3 separate regions of the Homo sapiens genome follow, and regions 1 and 3 are each linked to region 2. The links come from fine-mapping of genetic effects on gene expression. A gene starts in region 2. Each other region holds a variant in brackets. All regions are shown on one strand. Distances are from middle to middle.

Evidence for each region. PIP is the estimated chance that this variant, and not a neighbour inherited with it, causes the effect.
Region 1: its variant is the best candidate, but not a certain one, in a credible set for the expression of PSMG3-AS1 in aorta (GTEx, PIP 0.83).
Region 3: its variant is the best candidate, but not a certain one, in a credible set for the expression of PSMG3-AS1 in stomach (GTEx, PIP 0.59).

What each region holds. Positions count from the first base shown.
Region 1 is chr7:1,589,989-1,594,035 of GRCh38, reverse strand. It overlaps LOC105375123 (a long non-coding RNA gene), which reads right to left and starts at 1,597. Exons shown (of 8, transcript XR_001745048.2): 1 at 1,105-1,597; 2 at 724-933. RefSeq lists an enhancer at 247-296. The variant G/A (reference allele first, on the strand shown) is at 2,293.
Region 2 is chr7:1,568,308-1,572,354 of GRCh38, reverse strand. It overlaps PSMG3-AS1 (PSMG3 antisense RNA 1), which reads right to left and starts at 2,282. Exons shown (of 5, transcript NR_027329.1): 1 at 2,076-2,282. It overlaps PSMG3 (proteasome assembly chaperone 3), which reads left to right and starts at 2,323. Exons shown (of 2, transcript NM_032302.4): 1 at 2,323-3,231. The coding sequence starts at 3,016. RefSeq lists enhancers at 1,272-1,321, 1,332-1,401, 2,025-2,593 and silencers at 1,702-1,781, 2,222-2,651.
Region 3 is chr7:1,616,316-1,620,362 of GRCh38, reverse strand. It overlaps LOC105375303 (a long non-coding RNA gene), which reads right to left and starts at 768. Exons shown (of 2, transcript NR_165252.1): 1 at 239-768. It also overlaps the pseudogene TFAMP1. The variant C/G (reference allele first, on the strand shown) is at 2,456.

The DNA.
Region 1 (4,047 bases), 22 kb before region 2:
GAGGGAGGAGGGAAAGAAGAAGGAGGAGGGAGAAAAAAGGGGGGAAGAAGGGGGAAGAAAAGGGGCAGGAAGCAGGGAAGGAGGGAGGAAGGAGGGCAGACTAGCGCCCTTGGCCTGGGGCTGTGTCCCTCTGGGGTGGTGACCTTGGGACCATCTCGGAAAGGCAGAGAACCTGGGGCACTATCAGCAGAGGTGCTTCTGGGCTTGGGGGTCTCCTGCGGGGGCTCCAGTCCACCCTGCCTGGATAGCAGCTTCCCAAGGGCCCAAGGTGCCAGGGCTGGGCTCTGGCTTCTCTCCCCATGTTCAGAGGCCTCCTTCCTTCCCCTTGGCCAGCAGGGGGCTCACAAGGAGGTCCTGCAGGCGTCCTGCTAACTCCCTGCCCAGCCTCTGTGAGCACCGCCCTGAGGCAAGGTGGGTCTGGCTGCCCCGAGGCCTGGGGGCCGCCCGGCCTGGTCACACACAGGCATCCTGCACTCAATCTGCCCCAAGCCTCCCTCCCCCCAGCCTTTGTCCCATGCCATGCCCCCTGCCAGGGATGCCCTCCCCAATGCTACTGTCCACTTGGACCCCCAGGGAGAGTCTCTCCTCTGTACCCACACCAAATCACAGGAATACAGCCTGATCTGGGACCGGGCATGTTCTAGCTTGTGTGATAGCTTCCTATTCACACCTTTTATCCTCCAAACCTAATTGAAATCCCAGAGACCCAGATTGTCATCTCACAGCCACCGTCGTCACCGTCCGGGTGCCCTGGGGCCCGTCGCCTTCTGAGCCTTGGTTTTCTGGGGTTACGATGGAGACTGCGGGGGTGTGCGAAGCTTCAGAGTACAGTAACCAGGTGTCACAGAGGTGCACGGAGCACGGGACATGCTGAAAGGGGCTGGTTGCCCTCTTCTTCCTGGGAAAGGGCTCTGAGCCTCAGATTCCAGACCCCTGGAAAGGACGGACAAAAAGGTGAGAGCACAGCTGCCTCGGTCTTGCTGTTTCCAGGTAAACAGTTCTATGGACTCGATGGAGGAGCCTGGCTCCCCCCTACCCATACATGGTCTCCGAAGATGTTCCCGGACAAGGCACTCCCCAGCCGCCCCCTCTCCACGCCCCCACCTGCTACGTCCTGTCCTCTGAACAACAGAAGCAGGGGAGGACGAGGCGTTTGAGGAGTTCAGGGAGTTGGAAGAGAGTTAGCAGATTTCTGAGAACCCCAGGTGCAGCTTAACCTACAAATGGAAAATTATGGTGATGAGAAAGAGGATCTTTGATGAGGCAGAGTCTTGGGGGAATCGGATTTTGGCTGACGTGCAAGAAAAAGGCAGGCTGGGCGGGGAGGCAGGAAGAGGCAGGTGTCCCTGCAGGGAAAGGGGGCGGTGGAGGTGGGAAGCGTGTCCTGAGCGGATGTGGGTGGGGGCGAACAACGGGAGGTGCCCCCCAAGGCCTCGGGGACCCCATTTCCTGCACTGCCAGCTGCCAGCCCTGGGGACCACTGAAGAGAGCTTGGACCCGCCTGGCTGGCTGTTTACGTCTCACCCATCATGCATTAAGCATGCACCTGCTGGGTGCCCCCAGTGACTCCTGGTGCCACCGAGGTACTTCCATAGAGTGCGTGTCTGTCCCCACACCCCCGCAGAGTGGGCTGCTCCTGCCCGCCCGGCCCCACCACCCACTCCCACTGTTGCATGGCCTCTTGTAGCTAGACGCCAGCTGGCCGGTCTCTGGGTGGGCCGCCACGGCTCTTCCCATCCTTCGCGCCCCATTTTTCCTGCCCAGTCATGAGTAGAGTGGATTTCCATCCCCGGAGGGCTGGGCCAGCCATGCTTCCTGTCGGCCGGTGGCATGCAGTGAGGACGTCCCACCTTCGGAAGCATGACCTCAGGAAGTCCCCAGTTTCTGCTGAGATCCTGAGATGCCCAAGAAGGAAACCAGTCCAGCCTCCCGCAGGCAGAGCCCTGTGAGGGGCCGCGGCGCCTCGGACCACCAGCTGGATGCTGCGGGGAGGGGAACTCCCCACCACCCGCCAACCCACAGCCGTCTGACTGATGTGGGCTCCCGGCGAGGGAGGCTGCAGCCTCCCAGACAGCTCTGGCTCAGGCTGGGTGGCTGGGAAGTGCACATAGATTAGCCAGGGTTCTCCAGAGACACAGAACCAAAGGATATATGTGTGTGTCTGTGTGTGCATGTGTGTACAGAGACACAGAGACAGAGACAGACAGAGAGAGAGAGAGAGAGAGACAGAGAGAGATCTACATGGGAATCGGCTCACAGAATCACAGAGGCTGAGAAGCCCCACCATCTGCT[G/A]TCTGCAAGCTGGAGGCCCAGGGAAGCCAGTGGAGCAATTCAGTCCAAGTTTGAAGGCCTGAGAACAGGAGCTCGATGTCCAAAGTCAGGAGGAGATGGATGTCCCAGCACAGGAAGAGAGAGAATTCCCTCCCCTGCCTTTGTCCCGGGGGAGGCCTCAGTGGTTTGGGTGACACCTGCCCACATTGGGGAGGGTGGACTTGTCTACTTGGTCTGCTGATTCAAGTGCTGATCCCTTCTGGAAACTTGGGGGAATGGGATTTTGGCTGTCGTGCAAGGAAAAGGCAGGCTGGGCGGGGAGGCAGGAAGAGGCAGGTGGTCCTGCAGGGAGAAGGGGCGGTGGAGGTGGGAAGCGTGTTCTGAGCAGATGTAGGTGGGGGCAAACAACGGGAGGTGCCCCCCAAGGCCTCAGAGACCACAAGACCTGCTAGCTGCCAGCCCCGGGGACTGCTGAAGAGAGCTTGGACCCACCCGGCTGGCCATTACAGCCTCACAGACACGCCCAGAAGTGATGTTTTTTACCAGCTCTCTAGGCGCCACTTACCCCAGTCAAGTTGACTCCTAAAATGAATATCACAGCCAGGTCAGAGGTATGCACAGACTTTCCCTCTGAATTCCCTCGACGCCCTTTGAAGGGGTCCTATTATTATTCCCATCTTATAAAAGAGGATGTTTGAGAGTTTCAGTGATGGCTCCTGACCACACAGCTCAGGGCGGTGAAGCCCAGACACACATCAGCCTTCACGCCTGGGCTCTCAAGTTCTCCCCAGCCTGGTTTTCTCTGAACCCAACCCAAGTCTCTCCACTCCTGAGGGATGATACATGCCCACCCCTCTCCGGAAGCCTCCACGCCCACCCTCTCCTTCCACTTCTCCCAGCTGCATCTCCCAGCCACGCTGCCTCTGACCTGTCTTCCCCAGACCCAGCCTCATTTCTCCAGACCCCGGGCCCCTATCTCCCCTTTCCTCTGCCATTTGGCAGATTTGCTATGTGGCCCCGGGAACACAGTCTTCAGCAATCTCTGTCTAGCACGGTGCAGGGAATTAAAGGTGACTCACACCTGTAATCCCAACAACTTTGAGAGGCCGGGGTGGGAAAATCCCTTGAGTCCAGGAGTTTGAGATCAGCCTAGGCAGCATCTCCAGATCCCTTTGCTACAAAAACATTAAAATTAGCCAGGCTTGGTGGCATGCACCTGTAGTCCCAACTACTCTGGAGGCTGAAGTGGGAGGATCGCTTAAGCCCAGATGGTTGAGACTGCAGTGAGCTTTGATGGTGCCACTGCACTCCAGCCTGGGTGACAGAGCAAGACCCTGTCTACAAACAAACAAATGAACAGAAAAAAGACTGCAAATTCTTTGCCCCCCTCCCATTGAGAGGAAGCTGTTCCCCCTCCCGTTGAATCTGTGGGCTCCGGGCTCCATCAAGAGCATGTGGGGACTGAGTCATTTGTTCACCCGCGTTCACAGCAGCACCGTCCCCAACAGCCAAAAGGGGAAAGCAGCCCAAGTGTCGTGGACCGATGAATGGATACACAAAACGTGGTCCTTCCACACAGTGGAGCATTACTCAGCCTTCAAAAGGAATGAAGGCTGGGCACAGTGGCTCACGCCTATAATCCCAGCACTTTGGGAGGCCAAGGCGGGGGGGATCACCTGCCTGAGGTCAGGAGTTCAAGACCAGCCTGGCCAACATGGTGAAACCCCGCCTCTACTAAAAATACAAAAATTAGCTGGGTGTGTTGGTGGATGCCTG
Region 2 (4,047 bases):
CCAGAGCAACTTCATCTTGAATAGGGGCTGGGTAAAATGAGGCTGAGATCTGCTGGGCTGCATTCCCAGACAGTTAAGGCATTCTATGTCACAGGATGAGATAAGAGGTCGGCACAAGCTACAGGTCATAAAGACCTTACTGATAAAACAGTTTGCAGTAAAGAAGCTGACCAAAACCCACCAAACCAACATGGCGATGAGTGTGACCTCTGGTCGTCCCAGCTGCTACACTCCCACCAGCGCCGTAAGTTTACAAATGCCATAGCAATGCCAGGACGTTACCCTAAAGGGTTTAAAAAGGTAAGGCACGAATAATCCACCCCTTGTTTAGCATATCATCAAGAAATAACCACAAAAATGGGCAACCAGCAGCCCATGCTGCTCTGCCTATGGAGTAGCCATTCTTTATTCTGTTACTGGTGGAGGGTGTCCAGGTTCTTGGCATCTTGAACAAAGAATTGGACAAAATGCACAAAGCCACCGGGCGCGGTGGCTCACACCTATAATCCCAGCACTTTGGGAGGCCGAGGCGGGCAGATCACCTGAGGTCAGGAGTTCAAGACCAGCCTGGCCAACATGGCGAAACCTCGTCTCTACTAAAAACACAAAAGTTAGCCGGGCATGGTGACGCACGTCTGTAATCTCAGCTACTCAGGAGGCTGAGGCAGGAGAATTGCTTGAACCCGGGAGGCAGAGGTTGCAGTGAGGATCACGCCACTGCACTCCAGCATGGACAACAGAGACTCTGTCTCAAAAAAAAAAAAATGCACAAAGCAAAAAAAGAATGAAGCAACAAAAGCAGAAATTTTTTGAAAATGAAAGTACATTCCATGGTGTGGGGGCGGCCAAAGCATAGAGGCTCAGGGCCCCATTACAGAACTTGTGAGGTTTAAATACCCTCTAGGGGTTTCTACTGGTTACTTGGTGTACGCCCTATGTAAATAAAGAGGATGAAATAAAGTTACAAAATCATTTACTCAGTGTACACCCTATGGAGAGGGTATTTCCTGTCATAGCTGAAGTGTTCCCTGCCTCCAGACCCTGTTTTCCTGCCTCAATTCCTTTACTTTTCTAATAAACTTGCTTTCACTTTGTGGACTCGCCCTCAATTCTCTCTTGGGGTCTGGATCGGGACCCCTTTCTGGTAATATAGACAGAAAATACGGCCTTGACATGGTTGTCAGGAAACGACAGTAAGGCCTCCGAGGGTGGGGTTCTGAAGGGATGTTAAACGCCCCACCCCGAGGAAGGCTCTGGAGGCTCCAATCACTTTCAGCCTCTGCTACCAAGATGTCCGACCCTACCAATAAAACTTCCAGCAGCGGGGCGCGGTGGCTCACGCCTGTAATCCCAGCACTTTGGGAGGCCGAGGAAGGCAGATCACCTGAGGTCAGGAGTTCAAGACCAGCCTGACCGACATGGTGAAACCCCATCTCTACTAAAAATTTAAAAAGTTAGCCGGGCCTGGTGGCGCACGCCTGTAATCCCAGCTACACAGGAGGCTGAGGCAGGAGAATTGCTTGAACCAGGGAGGCGGAGGCTGCAGTGAGCCGAGATCGCGCCACTGCACTCCAGCCTGGGTGACACAGCAAGACTCCGTCTCAAACAAAACAAAACAAAAAACCTTCCAGCTTGGAGAAACTGAGAGTGAGCAGTAGGGAGTGAGGGGGTCCCTGGGAGGAACCAGAACTCATCCCGCTTCAGGGTGGGGCTGGCCCCCTTCTTGGCCTTGGCCGGGGCTTCGTGTCACGGAGCGCCCGAGGGACGGTCGGAGCCCACCCCAGCCCGCCCGCCGCCTGAGCCTGGCCGAGCTCTCTGCACCTGCACACGTCTGTAAAACGCGGATGAAACGCTTCTACGGAACCGGGTGGCTGAGATGAAGTGAGTTATGGGTATAAAGCGCTTAGAGCGATGCCTGGCGGACACTCGGTGCCAAATAAGCGTTCGCTGTGGCGACGATGACGCCTCCAGCCCAAAGCCCGTGGTCGAGCAGGGCCGGGCTCCCAGCGCTAGGGGGTTCCTAGGCGCGGCGCTTCGGGGGTCCTGGACACAGACACGGGGGACAGAGCTCCTACCAGCGACGATCCCGAGGGTCTGCAGCAGAGGGGCTGAGGCCCGGGACGGGGGTGGTCGCAGCGCCCTTTCCTGAAAAAACGGGGTTCGGCTCTAAGGCGCCCCCAAGCCCTGCCGGCAGCGCGGAACCCGAGCCGCTCAGAAGCCCGGGAGCCCCAAGTCTCCGGGACCAGAAGCGCCGCGGCCCTGACTTCCGGAAGGTGGACGGAACCCGCGGACGGGGCGGGCCCGCGTGGCGCACGCAGAGCCACTTCCGGGCGCGGCGCCGGCTTGGTGAGCGCGGGTACCCGCGGGCTTCCCCGGGCGGCTGCGTCCCCAGTAGCCCGGCCGGCCTCGGCACCGCGTGTCGTGGGGGTCCCGGGCCGCGGCTGCAGGGCCGGGGCGGCGGCGAGGCCGAGGGGCGGGAAGCCACTGCCCGGCCTGGCAGTGTGAACGTGCAAGTCGATCCCCTAACCCAGAAAGCCCCAGGCGCGGTCTCTATGGGCGGCCCCGCTCCTGCTTCTGTTTTATTTTTTTACGGACAGGGTCTCGCTCTACCGCCCGGGTTGTAATGCAATGGTGTGATCACGGCTCACCGCAGCCTCGACCTCCCGGGCTGAAGCGATCTTCCCGCCTCAGCCTCCTGAGTAACTGGGACCACAGGCGCGCCCTGCTGGTTTTTTTTTTTTTTTTTTTTGGTAGAGATGGGGGTCTCGCTATGTTGGCCAGGCTGGTCTCGAATTCCTGGCCTCAACGATCGTCCTGTCTCGGCCTCCCAAAGTGCCGGGATGACAGGCATGAGCCACCGCGCCTGGCCCCTTCTTTTGAATGGGCCTCCTTGCGTTTCCGTTTCAATGCCCCGTGCTACTTTTTTGGGAGCCCCAAGGCTGTACTGTTTGATTGACTCCTTTTTTTCCCCTTTCTTTTTAACCTAAATTAAAGCTGCCACTGCAGAGCCCCGCCATGGAAGACACGCCGTTGGTGATATCGAAGCAGAAGACGGAGGTGGTGTGCGGGGTCCCCACCCAGGTGGTGTGTACGGCCTTCAGCAGTCACATCCTGGTGGTGGTGACCCAGTTTGGGAAGATGGGCACCCTGGTCTCCCTGGAGCCCAGCAGCGTGGCCAGTGACGTCAGCAAGCCTGTGCTCACCACAAAAGTCCTTCTGGGGCAGGATGAGGTAAAGTGGATTGGCCGGGAACTGTGGCTCACGCCTGTAACCCTAGCACTTTCAGAGGCCTAGGCGGGCAGATCGCTTGAGGCCAGGAGTTTGAAACCAGCCTGGGCAACACAACAACACACACACAAGTCACTACAAAAAAACAAGTGCCTACACAAAATATATATATAGAGAGAGGCTGGGTGCAGTGGCTCACACCTGTAATCCCAGCACTTTGGGAGGCTGAGGCGGGCAGATCACTTAAGGTCAGAAGTTCCAGACCAGCCTGGCCAACATGGGGAAACCCCATTTCTACGAAAAATATAAAAATTAGCTGGGTGTGGTGGCACATGCCTGTAATCTCAGCTACTCAGGAGGCTGAGGCAGAAGAATCGCTTGAACCCGAGAGGCGGAGGTTGCAGTGAGCTAAGATCGTGCCACAGCACTCCAGCCTGGGTAACAGATAGAGACTTGGTCTTAAAAAAAAAAGGAAAAGAAAAGGAAACAAAAAATTAGCTGGGCCTAGTGGTGTGTGCCTGTGCTCCCAGCTACTTGGGAGGCTGAGGTGGGAGGATGGCTTGAGCCCTGGAGGTTGAGGCTGCAGTGAGCCATGATTGTGCCACTGCGCTCCAGCCTGGGTGAGAGAGCAAGACTCTGTCTTTAATAATAATAATAATAATAATAATAATAAAGTGGTCAGGAAGGGACCCCCAGGGAGGAGCATAAACCTCTCCAGTGGCTGTGATTTGTCAGTAAGGACATGGGGCATCTGGCGGACAAATACCCCTACAGCGATAGCATTTTCCGGGCATTTGTGGGTCTCAAGGCGCCCTGCTT
Region 3 (4,047 bases), 48 kb before region 2:
GGCGGAGCTTGCGGTGAGCCGACGTTGCGCCACCGCACTCCAGCCTGGGCAACAGGAGCAAAACTCCACTTCAAAAAATTAAAAAATTAAAAAATTAAAAATAAATAAAAGGAGCCCCAGAGGGCTCCCTCACCCCTTTCCCACAAGAGGGCACGGCGGGAAGGTGTCGCCTATGACCCAGGAAGCCTTCGGCAGACACGGAGCCTGCCGGGGCCTGGATCTTGTGTCTGCCTCGAACCTGTTTTTCCGGGTTCTTCGCTGCCCGTGGCCGCCCCGTCGGAGGCTCCAGGGTGCAGTTCACCTGCTGGCTTCATCACGGCCTCCTGAGCCCTGAGGCCCGGGCGGGGGCGGGAGAGCAAGTCCAGGGTCACAGGCGTGGAGGGGTGCTCCGCGTGAGATGCGGCCCTCCTCCGAGGCGGTTCGGATGAGGGGGACCCCCGAGAGCGATGGGGACTTGGGGTCCCCGGGAGGAGTTAGCAGTAAAGCAGCCGCCACGGTGGGGACCCTGCAGGTGGCCAGGGAGGGCTGGATGCGGTCTCCTCTCCCACCGGCCCATCTCCCTGCCCCCAGCACAGGACGGGCTCGCGTGGGGGGCTGACGGGAGCTCAGGGGCCGGTCAGGCCCACCCCTCACTCCCCGGTCCAGGCCTGGGGGCGACAGCAACTGCGGGCATTGGAGGAGGCCGTCTGACGCGCAGCCAGACCCCGCCACAGAGAGTGACCCGGAGGCCCAGGGCCCCGCTCGGGCGGGTGAGGGTTCCTGCACGACGCCAGCTTCCGGGGGAAGCGGAAGCTGCTCACACTCACGGCTCCACCCAGGTGGGGCCCTTCAATAACTCGGTTCCGCTAACGTGGTGCCGGCTTCACACACCGGCTCCCCCGCCGCTCAGACGGTTCCAGCTGTCCTTCTCCCCTCCTCGCGTTCTTACCAACGCACTTGGGGCTGGAGAACCCTCGCGCCACCCACACTCACACACACACCTACATGTACATACACCCTACACACACACACCTACACACACCTACACACACCCCGACACACATACACCTACACACAACCCCTACACACACCTACACACCCCTATACACACACACCTACACACACCTACACACACCCCTACACACACCTACACACCCCTATACACACACCGCCACACACCCCTACATAACACACACCCCTACATACACACACACCTACACACACCCCTACACACACATACAGCTACACACACCCCTACACACCCCTACACACCCCTACACACACCCCTACATACACACACACCTACACACACACATACACACACATACACCTACACACACCCCTACACACACCTACACACACTACATAACACACCCCCCCACATACACACACCTACACACACCCCTATACACACACCTACACACACCCCTACATAACACACACCCCTACATACACACACACCTACACCCCCTACATACACACACAACCCTATACACACATACACACATACACCTACACACACCTACGCACACCTATGCACACCTACATGTACACACACCCTACACACCTACACACACCCCTCCACACACCTACACACACACCTACACACACACACCCCTCATAACACACACCCCCTACATACACTCACACCTACACCCCCTACATACACAACCCTACACACACATACCCCTACACACACCTACACACACCTACGCACACCTATGCACACCTACATGTACACACACCCCTACACGCACACACCTACACACATACACCCCTACATACACACACCCCTACACACACCCCTACATACACACACCCCCTACATACACACACACCCCTACACACATACCCCCTACATACACACACACACAGGCACACACACACCTGCAGAGGCACACACACCCCTACATACACACACACACCTATATACACCTACACAGACACACACACACACACCCCTACACACACATACATCTACACAGGCACACACACACACCCTACATACACACCCCTACATACACACACACCTACATACACACCTACACAGACACACACACCCCTACACACACACATCTACACAGGCGCACACACACACCCCTACATACACACATCCCTACATACAAACACACACCCCTACACAGACACACTCCTACACACTGGTCTCCCAGCCTGTGCCTCTCCCCGTGGAGTGCCCCCTCCACCCTGCAGCCGAGGAGCCCCCAGCCCTGTGTGGGACCAAGGCTTCAAAGCCCCCACTGACCCCACCACCCATAAGATCAAAAGCGAAATTCCTCGGTGGGTCAGTTTGCTTGGGCCGCCATAACAAACTCTCACAGACCAGGTGGCTGAAACAACAGACGTTTATTTCCCACGATCCTGGAGGCTGGAAGTCCAACATCAAGGTGTGGGTGGGGCTGGATCCCCTGAGGCCTCCTCCTCAGCTTCCAGACAGCATCTTCTCCCCATGTCCTCA[C/G]GTGATTGTCCTTCCGTGAGCATCTGTGTCCTAATCTCCTCTTCTTAGAAGGACTCCAGTCAGATTGGATCAGAGCCCACCCTAGTGACCTCATTTTCCCTCCATTATCTCTTTAAAGACCGTGTCTCTGGCCAGACACCGTGGCTCGTGCCTGTAATCCCAGCACTTTGGGAGACTGAGGCAGGAGGATTGCTTGAGGGCAGGAGTTCAAAACCAGCCTGGGCAACATAGTAAGACCCCATCTCTACAAAAGAATTTTTAAAAATTAGCCAGGCATGGTGGTGCATGCCTGTGGTCCCAGCTACTTAGGAGGCTGAGGCAGGAGCATTGCTTGAGCCCAGGAGGTGGAGGCTACAGTGAGTCCTGATAGGGCCATTGCACTCCAGCCTGGGTGACAGGGTGAGACCCTGTCTCCAAAAAATAAAATAAAATAAAATAAAAATAAAAATAAAAATAAAAAGATTCTGTCTCCAAATACAGCCATATTCTGAGGTCCTGGGGGTGAGAACTTTGGCGTATGAATTTGAGGGAGACACAATTTACCCCATGACGCAGGGCATGAGATTGAAAGGCCTTCGCAATCCAGGCACCATCTTCCTTCCCAAAGCCAGATCCCGGGGGCCATGTGGGGTGTCCTGAAAGCGGGAAAGTTTGCCATGGTGGCCCCCAGTGGAGGTCCTGGCATCCTTGTCTCTGGAGGTCAGAAATTCTTAAAGTAAGCGTGGGCTGCCCTCCCTGCCCTGGGCCTCCTGTCCACTTGAAAGCACACACAGGAGTGGGCTTGGTCCAGGCTGGGGGAGGAGGAAGGTGCCCTGGACCAGGAACCCAAACACCAAGGGAGCAGCAATGGGGAAGTGTTCTGTCCTGGCCCCACACGCTGGCAGACCATGCTGGTGCTCCACACGTCATCACTGTCACAGCAACTCTGCAGGGCAGGAGGTGTGACCCCAGTTCACAGATGAGGAAACAGAGGCTCCTCAAGGACGCAGGGCTCACCCGAGGTCACACTCAGGAGGGAAGAGCTGCATGTGGGCCCACAGGTTCGAGTGCCTGTTATGCAGTCACAGTCCAATGCGCGGAGGCAGCAGGGTTTGCAGCAGAGAAAGAGTTTCAGGATCGCTGGGAGCCAAGCAGGGAGATGGGAGGAGACCCTCAAATCCATCTCCCCAAGGAGTTCTGAACTGGGGTGTTTTGGGTTTTTTTTTTTTTTTTGGTTGTGTTCCAATAAACTTTATTTATGAACACTAAATATTCATGTTAATTTTCATGTATCATAAAAGTCTTTAAAAACAAAGCATTTAAAATTATAAACACAATTCCTAGCTCACAGGACACAGAAAGCAGGCAGCAGGCTGGATTTGGTCCACAGGCCATAGTTGGCTGTCTCTTATACAGGCTTTAATACGTTATGCAAAGTGTTTCAAATTCCAGAGACTTTGGATACTTCTCTTTTTTTTAGATTTCTCATTTTAAAATATATACAATGCAAGTTTTCTTTCTGGATCAATATACTCGCATGAGAGAAAATAATTCAGAAAAAAATATATTTCCTTACTTAAAAAAAGGGAAAGGCACCAGGCATGGTGGCTCAT